Homo sapiens: one gene and its partners. The protein of the gene in region 1 interacts with the protein of each later gene in a biochemical or structural test. Each region holds a gene or a part of one and is shown in the gene's direction. Other genes may lie near its edges.

What was found. The genes of interacting proteins can lie anywhere in the genome.
Region 2: the proteins of TRPV4 (region 1) and RILPL1 interact in a test that uses a peptide from one of them, tested with the Homo sapiens proteins (one large-scale study listed by BioGRID).
Region 3: the proteins of TRPV4 (region 1) and GSG1 interact in a test that uses a peptide from one of them, tested with the Homo sapiens proteins (one large-scale study listed by BioGRID).
Region 4: the proteins of TRPV4 (region 1) and EIF3J interact in a test that uses a peptide from one of them, tested with the Homo sapiens proteins (one large-scale study listed by BioGRID).

What each region holds. Positions count from the first base shown.
Region 1 is NC_000012.12:109,798,883-109,802,726, reverse strand, and holds part of TRPV4 (transient receptor potential cation channel subfamily V member 4), read left to right. Parts: intron 1-1,968; coding exon 1,969-2,109; intron 2,110-3,814; coding exon 3,815-3,844. UniProt on the Homo sapiens protein: Non-selective calcium permeant cation channel involved in osmotic sensitivity and mechanosensitivity. Activation by exposure to hypotonicity within the physiological range exhibits an outward rectification.
Region 2 is NC_000012.12:123,527,220-123,530,719, reverse strand, and holds part of RILPL1 (RILP-like protein 1), read left to right. Parts: intron 1-3,500. UniProt on the Homo sapiens protein: Plays a role in the regulation of cell shape and polarity. Plays a role in cellular protein transport, including protein transport away from primary cilia.
Region 3 is NC_000012.12:13,086,668-13,090,167, reverse strand, and holds part of GSG1 (germ cell-specific gene 1 protein), read left to right. Parts: intron 1-819; coding exon of another isoform or gene 820-891; coding exon 892-960; intron 961-1,258; coding exon 1,259-1,306; coding exon of another isoform or gene 1,307-1,430; intron 1,431-2,108; coding exon 2,109-2,261; intron 2,262-2,877; coding exon of another isoform or gene 2,878-2,904; coding exon 2,905-3,016; coding exon of another isoform or gene 3,017-3,020; intron 3,021-3,500. UniProt on the Homo sapiens protein: May cause the redistribution of PAPOLB from the cytosol to the endoplasmic reticulum.
Region 4 is NC_000015.10:44,540,147-44,543,646, forward strand, and holds part of EIF3J (eukaryotic translation initiation factor 3 subunit J), read left to right. Parts: intron 1-3,500. UniProt on the Homo sapiens protein: Component of the eukaryotic translation initiation factor 3 (eIF-3) complex, which is required for several steps in the initiation of protein synthesis.

The sequences.
Region 1 (3,844 bases):
CCCAGCACTTTGGGAGGCCAAGGGGGGCAGATCGCTTGAGCCCAGGAGTTCAAGACCAGCATGGGCAACATGGTGAAATCCTGTCTTGACAAAAGATACAAAAAAAAAAAAATAAAATAAAAGAAGGCCAGGTGCGGTGGCTCACACCTGTAATCCCAGCACTTTGGGAGGCTGAGGTGGGCAGATCACTTGAGGTCAGGTGTTCAAGACCAGCCTGGCCAACATGGTGAAACCCTGTCTCTGCTGAAAATGCAAAAATTAGCCAGGCGTGGTGGTGCGCACCTATAATCTCAGCTACTTGGGAGGCTGAGGCAGGAGAATCGCTTGAACCTGGGAGGTGGAGGTTGCAGTGAGCCAATATCGCGCCATTGCACTCCAGCTTGGGCAACAAGAGCAAGACTCATCTCAAAAAAAAAAAAAAGATGCAAAAAAAGCCAGGCTTGTTGGTGCACACCTGTAGTCCCAGCTACTTGGGAGGCTGGGGTGGGAAGATCACTTGAGCTCAGAGGGTCAAGGCTTCAGTGAGCTATGATTGTGCCACTGCACTCCAGCCTGGGTGACAGAGTGAGACCCTGTCTCAAAAAAAAAAAAAAAAAGATTCCAAGATTCTGAGATGCAGCGAGTCTAGTGATCATGAACTCGGGATCTGGCCCTAAGATGCTGTGGTGGCGGATACTCTAAGGCTCTATGATAATAAGTCCTGAGTTCACAAGTTCTAAGAGGCAAAGGCAGCAGGGGGCCAAGAACTGGGCCAATCCCCAGTTGAGATTCTGTAAATCAGAGTTGACCTTCAGATGCCTGGATATTAAGATTCAAAATCCATGAATATTATATCTTGAGTCCAAAATTCTGGGAGGCCAAGGTACTGTTGTTTCCTCTAGGAGTTTTCTTTTTTTTGAGACAAGGTCTTGCTCTGTTACCCAAGCTGGAGTGCAGTGGTGTGATCATGGCTCACTGCAGCCTTGACTTCCTGGGCTCAAGGGAGTCTCCCACCTCACCCTCCCAAGTAGCTGGGACCACCGGCATGGACCACCATGCCAGGCTAATTTTTAAAATTTCTGTAGAGACAGGGTCTCACTATGTTGTTGTATTAGCCCGTTCTCATGCTGCTATAAAGAACTGCCCAAGACTGGATAATTTATAAAGGAAAGAGGCTTAATTGACTCACAGTTCCGCAGGGCTGGGGAGGCATCAGGAAACTTACAATCATTGTGGAAGGGGAAGCAAACATGTCCTTCTTCACATGGTGGTAGGAAGAAGAAGTGCCAAGCAAAAGGGGGAAAAGCCCCTTATAGAATCATCAGATCTCTTGAGGACTCACTCACTATCATGAAAACAGCATGAGGGTAACTGCCCCCATGATTAAATTACCTTTCACAGGGTCCCTCCCATGATACATGGGGATTATGGGAACTACAATTCAAGGTGAGATTTAGGTGTGGACACAGAGCCAAACCATATCAGTTGCCCAGGCTGGTACTGAACTGCTAGGCTTCAGCAATCCTCCTGCCTCAGCCTCTGGAGTAGCTGGGACCACAGGTGTAAGTCACCAGGCCCAGCTAATTTTTAGCATTTCTATAGAGATGGGATCTCACTGTGTTGCCCAGGCTTGCCTCAAACGCCTGGGCTCAGGTGATCTCCCTCCTTGGTCTCCCAAATTGCTGGGATTACAGGCGTGAGCCTGCGCCTGGCCTCCTCTAGGATTTTTAAAGCATCTTATGAATCTAAAAACTTCTCACATTCAGGATTCCACAAACTAGGTATCCTTCAGGCTTGAGATTCTGCTTCTGCGATGGATCCCAGGGAATATCCAAGGACCTATTTGCTGCCCTTGGGTGTCGCTGGGCAGGACTCTGCCTGCATCCCCCACCCCCCAATTTCTACGTCCTGCACCCTACCCCCACCCCCAGCAAGCCTGGCTAGGTCTCTGCTCCGCCAGGACCCTGGATGACCGTCCCCTGCCCCCAGGTCAGACAGCCCTGCACATCGCCATTGAGCGTCGCTGCAAACACTACGTGGAACTTCTCGTGGCCCAGGGAGCTGATGTCCACGCCCAGGCCCGTGGGCGCTTCTTCCAGCCCAAGGATGAGGGGGGCTACTTCTACTTTGGTAAGGAGGGGCCTGGTGGGGGCTGACAGCATGCTGGAGAAGCATGGCGGGAGATAGCATGATACTGGTTGGTGTCTGCAGCCCTGACCATCACCCAGACACCCAGGGCCACTCTGGCCATGAGCGCAGGCAGCACTCTGGACCACAGGCTGCACGTTGGTCTTGGTCACAGGGCCGTTGCCTCTGAGGTGTAAGTGCCATGGGGAGTACCATGGACCTGGATTCAGATCCTCACTCCAGCCAGGCACGGTGTCTCACACCTGTCATCCCAGCACTTTGGGAGGTCAAGGCAGGAGGATCGCTTGAGGGCAGGAGTTTGAGACCAGCCTAGGCAACATAGCAATACCCTGTCTCTTTTAAACATTTAAAAAATGGCTGGGCACGGTGGCTCATGCCTGTAATCCCAGCACTTTGGGAGGATGAGGCAGGTGGATCACCTGAGGTCAAGAGTTCAAGACCAGCCTGGCCAACAAGATGGTGAAACCCATCTCTACAAAAATAACAAAAATTAGCCGGGCATGGTGGTGGGTGCCTGTAATCCCAGCTACTTGGGAGGCTGAGGCAGGAGAATTGCTTGAACCTGGGGGACAGAGGTTGCAATGAGCCGAGATTTCCCCATTGCACTCCAGCTTGGGTGACAGAGTGAGACTCTGTCTCAAAAAATAAATAAATAAATAAATAAATAAATAAGTTAGATGGCATGGTGGCATGTGCTTGAAGTCCCAGCTGCTTGGGAGGCCGAGGCTGGAGGATCACTTGAACCTAGGAGTTCGAGGCTGCAGTAAGCCATGATTGCACCACTGCACTCCAGCCTGGAAAATAGAGCAAGACCCCGTCTTTAAAAAGCAAAAAGAAAAGAACAAAAAAAAAGCCAAATCCTCACTCTGCACTTTCCAGGCATGTGACCTCACTTCCCTGAGCCTCACCTTCCCCAGCTGTGCAGTGGGGATCACGAGAGGCCCTTGGGCTGTGATGTCAGCGCCCAGCTCTGTATTGTCTGTGTGCTTTAATCTGGTTTATGCTGGGACCAACAGCCCCATCACCAGGCCCAAAGCCCACCACTGCCGTTGTCATCACTGGACTCATGAAATATTTTGAATTTTGCCCCTGCTTAAAGGCATTCATTATGTGCAGCTCAGGGACAAAGTCACACAAAGAATTCCATCATCAGCTGGGCGCGGTGGCTCACGCCTGTAATCCCAGCACTTTGGGAGGCCGAGGTCGGCGGATCACTTGAGGTCAGGAGTTTGAGACCAGCCTGGCCAACATGGCGAAATCCTGCCTCTACTAAAAATACAAAAATTAGCCAGGTGTGGTGGCGTGCGCCTGTAATCCCAGCTACTCGGCTGAGGCACAAGAACTGCTTGCACCCGGGAGGTGGAGGTTGCAATGAGCCGAGATTGTGCCACTGCACTCCAGCCTAGGCGACAGAGTGAGACTTTGTCTCAAAAAAAAAAAAAAAAAGAATTCCATCATTGGATGTGTCCAGTCCCTCACAGCCTCCAAATCGCGTGGCTGTGCCCTTAACTAGCCACACCCCATCTCCCTGGCATCACCCAGAGAAACGTGCAGTTCATATCCACTGCTGGTGCTGTCTCCGTCATTATCCTCAGAGCGCCACGGTGTCCGTCCCCCGAGTGTCTGCAGGCAGAGTCCCACCCTGGGCCCCCTTCGCTGACCTCCCACCCTTCACCCTGGCCCGCAGGGGAGCTGCCCCTGTCGCTGGCTGCCTGCA
Region 2 (3,500 bases), about 14 Mb from region 1:
AATAAATTCTAGAAAGCAATGGCTGGGCTGATACACTCGCGTGTAACATACCAGACTATGCTATTCATTCACTCATTCAGCGAATATATTTACTGAGAACCTACTGTGTGCCATGCATTGTTCTGGGCACTGGGAAGACAGTAATGACCATGACAGATGAGGCCTTGGCCCTGATGAGCCTGACTTTTTAGTGTAGTGCTATACCATAGAAATATTATGCAGCTTTGCCATGTTAATAAAAAACAGTGAAGTTGGCTGGGCGCGGTGGCTCACACCTGTAATCCCAGCACTTTTGGGGGGCCAAGGCGGGTGGATCACTTGAGGTCAGGAATTCAAGACCAGCTTGGCCAATATGGCAAAACCCCATTTCTACTAAAAATACAAAAATTAGCCGGGCATGGTGGCGAGTGCCTATAATCCCAGCTATTCAGGAAGCTGAGGCAGGAGAATCGCTTGAACCCGGGAGGCAGAGATTGCAGCGAGTCGAAATCACACCATTGCACTCCAGCCTGGGTGACAGAGTGAGACTCTGTCTCAAAAACAACAACAACAACAAACCAGTGAGGTTAATTTTAATATATCTTATGGGACCCAGTAGATCCAAAATATTTTCATTTCAACATGTAATCAGTATAAAAACTTATCATTTGATATTCTGCACTCTTTTTTTCCTACTACATCTTTGAAATCTGGTGTGTCTTTAACCCCTGCTGCACATTTCCACTCAGACCAGCCACATGTCAAATGCTCAACAGCCACGTGTGGCTACTGACTTTCCATGGGATGGTGCAATTATTCTAGCATGAGGAAGAGATAGAGATTTTTTTTCTCCTTTTTTTTTTTTTTGAGTCAGGGACGTACTCTGTCATCCAGGCCAGAGAGCAATGATGGCATCACGGCTCCCTGCAGCCCTGAACACCTGGATTCAAGTGATCCTCCTGCCTCAGCCTCCTGAGTAGCTAAGACTACAGGCACACTGTAATTTTTTTTTCCTTTAGAGACAAGGTGTCACTATGTTGCCCAGGCTAGTCTTGAGCTTTTGGGCTCAAGCAGTCCTCCTGTCTTGTCCTCCCAAAGTGCTGGGACTACAGGTTTGATCCACTGTGCTTAGCCAGGATAGATTAAAAAAAAAAAAAAAATTCAGGCTGGGCACAGTGTTTCACACCTGTAATCCCAGCACTTTGGGAGGCCGAGGCAGCTGGATCACTTGAGGTCAGGAGGTCAAGACCATCCTGGCCAACATGGCAAAACCTCATCCCTACTAAAAATACAAAAATTAGCTGGGTGTGGTGGCGCACGCCTCAGGAGGCAGAGGCAGGAGAATCGCTTGAACCTGGGAGGTGAAGGTTGCGTTGAGCCGAGATCATATCACTGCACTCCAGCCTGAGCAACAGAGCGAGACTTTGTCTCAGAAAAAAAAAATCAGCTTATAATAAGTGCCATAAAGAAAATAAAACTGGGAGACATGAAAGAGACTGACTAGGGTGGTAGTCTAACAGATGGGGCAGTCAGGAAGTCTTCCCTGAGGAGGTGACATCTGAGCTGAGATCTGAATGAAGGATAGGATCCAGCCACAGATTGATCTGGGGGAGAGGCATTCTAGGCAGAAGACGTGGCTAGTGCAAAGGTCCTGAGGTAGGAATGCACTTGGCATGTTCAAAGAACACAGAGTCGGTGTGGCTGGAGCAGAGCAAGTGAGGAAGAGGACTGGGAGATGAATCAGGAAGGTGCCGGGGCTTGTAGGCTCAGATGAGGAATTTGAGGACTCTTGGTGCTGAGGGAAGAACGTGAAGGAGATGATTGATCAGGGCTGACTTCTCCGGAGAACCACTGGGCTGGTATGGAGGCAGCATGAGATTCTGAGTGGTCAACTCAGAGGCGAGAATCAGCAACCCCAGCATCAACTTCAGTTCGTTGAGAGAAGAAAAAAAAAGAATTTAGGGTTAAAGTCTGTATTCATTCCCTGTGGCTGCTGTAACAAATCAACACAAACTGGTCGGGCGCGGTGGCTCAAGCCTGTAATCCCAGCACTTTGGAGGCTGAAGCGGGCGGATCACAAGGTCAGGAGATCGAGACCATCCTGGCTAACACGGTGAAACCCCGTCTCTACTAAAAATACAAAAAATTAGCCGGGCGTGGTGGCGGGCGCCTGTGGTCCCAGCTACTTCGGAGGCTGAGGCAGGAGAATGGCATGAACCCGGGAGGCGGAGCTTGCAGTGAGCCGAGATCGCACCACTGCACTCCAGCCTGGGTGACAGAGTGAGACTCCGTCTCAAAAAAAAAAAACAAACAACAACAAAAAAATCAACACAAACTTAGTGGCTCAAAACAGCAGAAATGTGTTATCTTTTTTTTTTTTTTGAGACAGCATCTCACTCTGTTGCCCAGGCTGGCGTGCCGTGCGTGACCATTGGCTCACTGCAGCTTCAGCCTCCTGGGCTCAAGCAATCCTCCCGCCTCAGCTTCCCAAGTAGCTCAACTGCAGGCATGTGCCACCACACCCAGCTTAATTTTTAGCAGAGATGGGGTCTTGCCATGTTGCCCAGGCTGGCTGCAGACTCCTGGGCTCAAGTGATTCTCCTGCCTCAGCCTCCCAAAGTACTAGAATTACAGGCGTGACCCACCATGCCTGGCCAGAAATGTATTGTCTTATTGAACTGGATAATCCAATATTATGGATACAATGTCATACAGTATTATGGAGGCATATGTGTAATTATCAATATAAATAATACTGGAGAAATTTCCGGACGTCAGAAGTCGGAAATGGCTCTCACTGAGTTCAAATCAAGGTGTTGGGAAGGCTCCACTCCTTTGGGGGGCTGTGGAGGAGGATCCATTTCTTTGCCTTCCCCAACTTATGGACTCTGCATTCCCTGGCTTGTGGCCCCTTCCTCCATCTTCAAAGCCAGCAGCGTAGCTTCTTCCCATCTCCCTCATATTCCTCTAACGCTGACCTGCCTTCCTCTTACGAAGACCCTGGCATGACATCGGCCCACCAGATAATCCAGCCAGATAATCCAGAATCATCTCCCCATCTCACAAGCTCTTTTTTTTGAGACACAGTTTCAGTCTGTCACCCAGGCTGGAGTGCAGTGGCATGATCTCGGCTCACTGCAACCTCTGCTTCCCTCAGCTCACTGTAACCTCTGCCTCCCAGGTTCAAGTGATTCTCATGCCTCAGCCTGCTGAGTAGCTAGGATTTCAGGTGCACGCCACCATGCCCAGCTAATTTTTGTATTTTTAGTAGACAGAGTTTTGCTGTGTTGTCCAGGCTGGTCTCGAACTCCTGACCTCAAGTGATCCTCCTGCCTTGGCCTCCCAAATTGCTGTGATTATAGGCGTAAGCCATCATGCCCAGCCTCAAGAGCCTTTTTTATAAAAAAAAAAAGTTGGGGTCTTGCTCTGTCACCCAGGCTGGAGTGCTGTGGTGCAATCACAGCTCACTGCAGCCTCAACCTCCGGGGCTCAAGTGATCCTCCCACCTCAGCCTCCCAAGT
Region 3 (3,500 bases), about 97 Mb from region 1:
GTCTAGGGAGCTAGAATTGCTGTTTAGAAACAAAACGAAGGGAGAGGAATATTGTAGGAAAGCCCTAGCTCTGCTCAACTGTGACCTCATACAAGTAACTTCATTTCTTTTTTCTTTTGATATGGAGTTTTGCTCTTGTTGCCCAGGCTGGAGTGCAATGGTGTGATCTTGGCTCACCACAACCTCCGCCTCTCAGGTTCAAGCGATTCTATTGCCTCAGCCTCCCAAGTAGCTGGGATTACAGGCATGTGCCACCATACCCGGCTAATTTTGTATTTTTAGAGAGACAGGGTTTCTCCATGTTGGTCAGGCTGGTCTCGAACTCCCGACCTCAGGTGATCTGCCCACCTCGGCCTCCCAAAGTGCTGAGATTACAGACATGAGCCACCATGCCCAGCCTATAACTTCGTTTCTATAGGTCTTGATTTGCTCATTTGTGAGATGAAAGCATCACAGCAGATCATCTTACAGCCTCTTCCTGGCCCCAAAGTATTTTCTCATTCTAAGTATTACCGCTACCATTTAAAAGTGGGGGAACCGAAGCCAGCCAGCCAGGGTAACTGATCATGTAAGAGAGCCCTCAAGGAGCTGAAGGCAGATCTGCCAGGTCTCCTGCCCCTCAGTGCACACTAGCAAAGCAGGCAGGTGCTGGTCGATGTGCGTTCCTCAGGTTTGGAGGAATGAGCTGAAGACACCTCCTCTTCCCTGCCCAAGAGCACTGAAAGGTGACCGGCCTGGGAAGAAAGCACCTGGTACTAAAGTTCTTCTAATGCCCAGAATCATGAACAATTTGATATCTGCTACTTCTCCCTATTTCAGCTAAAAGCGAGATGGAAGAGGAATTAAAAAAATGTGTGTATTTACATTTATATTTATTATTGTGCCACTTAGCACTGCTCCATCCCCAGTCCTGGAAACAATTTAGAGCCCTTCGGTCCAGTGGTACAGCGGCAGCAAAAGGTATTAGTTAACACTAAGATCATTAACTCTTCTGGACACGGGAAATGGGAACACTAAGCTATGTAGGTGCTCTCATGGAAACATCTTCTGCATTATCAGAGACTGAAGAGAGAAATTCACCTGGGCTGACTCTTGGCTGTGCCATTCATTCACCCAGGCATTCTTTCCTGCTTTCCTGCTCTATGCGGGGCAGGTGCTGTCAGAGCAGAGGGAGCAGTACCAGTTATGGGGTGGGGAAGGTTTTCATTCCAACCATCCCAGGGAGTAGCTCCATGACGTTGTACCTTGTATGTTTCAGGGGAGAGGTGCCGAAGTTTCATTGAACTTACACCACCAGCCAAGAGAGGTGAGAAAGGACTACTGGAATTTGCCACGTTGCAAGGCCCATGTCACCCCACTCTCCGATTTGGAGGGAAGCGGTTGATGGAGAAGGCTTCCCTCCCCTCCCCTCCCTTGGGGCTTTGTGGCAAGTATGTGTCTGATAAGGAATTTACAGTAGTTACCATTGACTTGGGCCTCTCCGGATCTAAACTGCACTGTGATCTCCCACTTTTCTCTTCTGAGCCCCAAAGGGTGACACAAATTCCTCCTTGAGCTGACTTTCATTCATATGCAGGAATGCAAAAACAGAACAGCAGGGATAAATAAGATTCACAAATAGAAAACCACCAACAGTGCTAACCTACTCTTGTTGCCAAGTAACCATGTAGGAAGGCTTAGCTTTTTCCTCCTTTTTCTCCACTATTATTATTATTATTTGGTAAAATGAAAGGAAAAGAGTGAAGAAGGGAGGCAGGGAGGGAACCACCCCAAAATTAAATGAGGAAAAAGACAAAAAATGATAACTAGAGCAACATTATTTCCCTGCAGGATTTATGAAAATTCGATGATTTCTTCTCAAATCTCCCCAACAGTATTTACAGTCAGTCAAGCTTACTTGGGTATATATTGGTTATGGAGTGGGAGCTGTGAGTGACGTCAAAGGACTAGAAATGAAGTAATGTTCCTCCCTGGTTTCAGCTGTGCCTCATTCTCCCCTTCTCAGATGCTGCTAGGGTCTTAACTCCTAATAGGCATCCTATGCTCACCGCTTATTCAGTTTTTTAACTGTCAGGGTGAGCGCTCCCTCTTCCTCTGGTTTCTGGCAGAAATCCTATGGTTATCCCTGGGAACGCAGATCACCTACATCGGACTTCAATTCATCAGCTTCCTCCTGCTACTAACAGACTTGCTACTCACTGGGAACCCTGCCTGTGGGCTCAAACTGAGCGCCTTTGCTGCTGTTTCCTCTGTCCTGTCAGGTGAGTTGCTCCTGGAGTGAGAGAGGGTGGTTGGCCCTGGCCACTTTTGAAGCCCTAGCTGGAGGGCTTGAGTCTTTGCCCTGAAGGGGAGGAGCCCAAAGGCTCTTTAAAGAATGGAGGTAGGCATCTTTAATTTTAAATTGAAGTAACATACAAAATTGTATATTGGATCACCGTGTACTTTACAAAATGATTTACCTCTAGGTTCCTTTATTTGCAAGCTTTCTCAATATGTAAAATCTATTGTTTGGGTTACTTTTCAGTTGTGACATACACACAGCTTTTCAAGACCAGTCTCCATTGGATAAAGTGAAAGATGCACATATAAGATGAAGAATTAAGCCAACATTGGGGTGTGGGTGGGAAGGAGTAGGGGTGGTGTGCAGTGGCCTTGGGTGCAGCCTTGACTCAGACTTTTTCCATAGCTCTCAGCCTACAGTCTGGGGTCACCTATTGCAAAGATGTGTATTTAAGGAGAAGCCCCCATTGTGAATTAGTCTTCGGGAAATGTGGTGGCATAGGGTAATGGGCTACTCCAACAGAGGCTGCGCCTGACTGCAAGAAGGGTGATCCAAAATCGTACTCCTGGCAGATGGCATGAAAGCCTTTCTCTAAGGGCTCTGCCTTCCTGTTTCCTTGGTAGGTCTCCTGGGGATGGTGGCCCACATGATGTATTCACAAGTCTTCCAAGCGACTGTCAACTTGGGTCCAGAAGACTGGAGACCACATGTTTGGAATTATGGCTGGGCCTTCTAGTAAGTGCTGTCATCTCCTGAACCTTTGTAGCCCCAGCCAACCTTCACGAGATTTTCTGCCCTCAGCTAGATGCTTATTCGGTGAAGCCCTGCCTTCTCTTCATCCCTCATCCCAAGAGCCTGTCAACCACACAGGGCTGCATCATCAGGGCACATCCATTCTTCCCTGCCTTCTGAGGGGGTACAGGAAGGATTCCTCGAGTGTGTCTTGGGAGGATGTTATTTTGTCCAGTTTTCCTGCTCATCAGCTGTGGCAGTTGCCTCTTTACCTGGTATATTTGTCACCCTGGGGAAACAAGACTGATTCTGTAGGCCTTATAGAAATGTGCTCTTTTTTTTTCTTTTTTTTATGATTCAAGGTATTAGAGAACAGAGAAATAGAGAAATCGCTTTGAAATTTGGATTGAATTGCATTCTCTGTAAATGGCTTACTCCTCTCCTCTTCACTTCCTTCTATATCCATTTTTATTCTACTGAACCGTGT
Region 4 (3,500 bases), on another chromosome or scaffold:
CAGGCCGGTCTTGAACTCCTGACTTCGTGATCCACCCGCCTCGGCCTCCCAAAGTGCTGGGATTACAGACGTGAGCCACCGCGCCTGGCTATATATATATATATATATATATATATATATATTTTTTTTTTTTTTTTGTAGATACAGGGTTTCGCCATGTTACCTAGGCTGGTCTCAAACTCCTGAGGTCAAAGTGATCTTCCCGCCTCGGCCTCCCAGAGTGCTGGGATTACAGATGTGAGCCACTGCACCTGACCTATTTATTTTGAGACGGATTTGTGAGACTGGCTAATTTTTGTGTTTTTGGTAGAGGTGGAGTTTCGCCAAGTTGCCCAGGCTGGTCTCAAACTCCTGAGGTTAAAGCGATCTTCCCGCCTTGGCCTCCCAGAGTGCTGAGATTACAGGTGTGAGCCACTGCACCTGGCCTATTTATTTTGAGACAGATTTGTGAGACTGGCTAATTTTTGTGTTTTTGGTAGAGATAGAGTTTCGCCAAGTTGCCCAGGCTGGTCTCGAACTCTTGGAGTCAAGTGATCTATCCTCCTCAGCCTCCTAAAATGCTGGGATTATGGGCGTGAGCCAGCAGACTCAGCCATATCACCAAATTTCTGAATTCTTATGTTTTTGTACTTTTTATGAGGAGTTGCAGACAAGGCTTAGTTTCCGTGAGGTCTTCTGTTCATGTCAGCATCTAGTACTTAACCTTTAAAAATACAGGTTTAATGTCATTTGTAATGTCCTGGGAAATGAAAGGAAAACTGATGTTTTTGTTATTATAATTTGCTCCAGCACTTTACTCTCATTTAGTAGACTTAGTATTTTGCTGTCCTTGACTTTTCAAATAGCTGTCTGGCAGTGGCAGAAGTGGACTTAGGTGAAACTGTACAACCGTTAATATATATGGCAAGAAAAGACTATGCTTTTCCCCAGTTAAAAAGATGAGAACTCGGGAGCATAGTTTCCCATCACCCTGGCTTTATTTACCTTTTTTACTATCCTGATAGTTGTGCAGAGGTAGTGGGAAGAATTGTTCACTTGGCATATATGACTCCTTCCTCATTGCTGGTATGATATGTAGGATGTGTTGACTGAGAAGGCAGTGAGTACCTACTGGACACAAGGACAACATAACTTTTGCTCCATTTTACTAGTCTCCTAGCATTTCAGTAGAACAGTTTAGAAGCTAGATTTATTCAAAGGGTACAGAGTTTGCAGAAACTTATAGCTGTGTTCAGCCATCTCACGCATTTGCCTCTGTAACCATATAGCATTTCTTTTAAAAGATCCTGAAGAGGCTGAGGCAAGAGGATTGCGTGAGCCTAGGAGTTTGAAGCCAGCCTGGGCAACATAGCAAGACCCCAACACATTTAAAGAGAGAGCGATCCTGAAGAACAGATTTAGTTGAGCCTCTCTCGTCCTACTCATTCACTCTCTGTTAGGATCCTATTCCAATAAATAGTTTGAATCTACCAGATAGGGACAATTTTCAGGGGTTGGAAACAACTTCTAAAGAACAGGATCTGTATTTTACAGAATGTGAAATTACTAGGAAATACCCAGAAGGTGGGCATTTTGCCAGAAAATGGGTATTTTGAAGAGAGTGTGTGTATGTGTAACTTAAGAAAAATTCCAAACATGCAGTAGAGAGAAACATTTAATAAACCAGTGACCAGTCTTGTCTCCTCTGTATCCCCACTTTCCTCCTCCAACCAGATTATTTTCAAGAAAATCTCAATCATATCATTTCATACCCTGCCACTTTTATAAACTAGCAAGTTTTGAATTAGGAAGCATGTTTGTTATTGAAAAATATTTTCTTGTCATGATGGATCATTGTAAATAAACCACTTGTTTAGTGTTCAGTGTCTTGATATCGCTGAGCCAGAAATTTAAAGTAGATTGATAACTGTCCTGAATATGAGACAGGTAGGCATTGAGATGGAACTCAGCTGAGTGCTGATCCATTGTAGTATGTTAAAAGCTTAATGAATTGAATTAAATGAAGTAGAATTTACTAAGGCAGGCACCTTGGCTTCTAGGCACCCAGCATAGTTCTGAGATGGTGGAAGAACATTTTGGCTTTTAAAAAACTGAACTTTGCTGGGAAGTCTACCCTTGCCAAGATCTCGTTGCACAGTTCTGAGTTCTCTCAGAACTGCACAGCTTACAGAACACAAATTAAAGGCTTTTTTTTTCTTTCCCAGCAAGAGATTATGTTTTACCTAAACCAAATTATTTAAAGAAAAAAGGAGAAGGAGTATATGTTAGTTCCTAGGCTGTTGCTATAGGGCAAAAGAGTTTTATTGCTCGTTTGAAGCTACTTCTATTTGACAATCTATAAATACATCTTGCTTAAGTTGGAAAGCATTTTCAGCCCTAAATGTGTTCTCATTGCATGTGACATAATGTAGTTTTATATTATGAAGACAGAACCAGCTAACTACTGGCCACATTGTTAGAAATAAAAAGAAAGCAAGATATAAAGTTTTCTGCTTTGCTTCTGATACTTAGTTGTGTTCAATTAGGGAAGCAAGTTTTAAAGTTAAAAAGCAGCCATCTCTTTCATAGAAATAGCTTAAATGATGGGTGTGTATCTGCAGGGCAAGAGTATAGATAAGCAAGTAGTTTATAAACAGGCCCTATTCTAAGAAGCTAGCCATTTTAGGAGAGCAGCCTGGGTGATTCTTTTGAAGATAAATTGGATATTATAGTTGAAAGATTAATTGGCTACCAAAAATAATTGGGTAAAGGATTTAATTGGATGTTCATAGGTAGTCTCTTGAACCAAATAACCATTTAGGGCTCTTTGAAGTGAGTTGTAGACTTGCTCCCTATTTTAAGTGTTAATTTTAGCTGTTTCTCTAGGAAGCCTTTTTACATTTTATCTGAATTTGCTGCTGGAATTTACAAACTTCTAATGTTTACAAAAAATTGGGCATATTTTTTGAAGCAGCGTGGTGAACATTCTACCTTAAATCTACTTTTCAGACACTTAATTTTATAACTATGGAAACAAAAACTCTAACTTCCTGGGGAAAGCTACCTGGCCTTTTGCTTTTATAATTACATCTGTTTGGAAGTGTGACCAGTCTCTTTTTGCTGACACTTACTATGCTCCTTTCTTTAGGGGCTTAGTGCTAGTTTGGTAGTAACTTCAGGGCAGACTTGTAAGCACTTTGGGGAGAGAGTGACAGTCAAGGTTTGGATGGTCCTTTTATGAATTGAGGAGCAGATGTCATGGCTCTTCTTGGTACATGTTGATAGGAACCACTTTTTTTTTTTTTTTTTGAGATGGAGTTTCGCTGTCTCCAGGCTGGAGGGCAGTGGCGCAGTCTCGGCTTACTGCAACCTCCGCCTCCTGGGTTCAAGCGATTCTCCTGCCTCAGCCTCCCAAGTAGCTGGGACTACAGGTGTGCGCCACCACACCCAGCTAATTTTTGTATTTTTAGTAGAGATGGGGTTTCACCATGTTGGCCAGGATGGTCTCGATCTCTTGACCT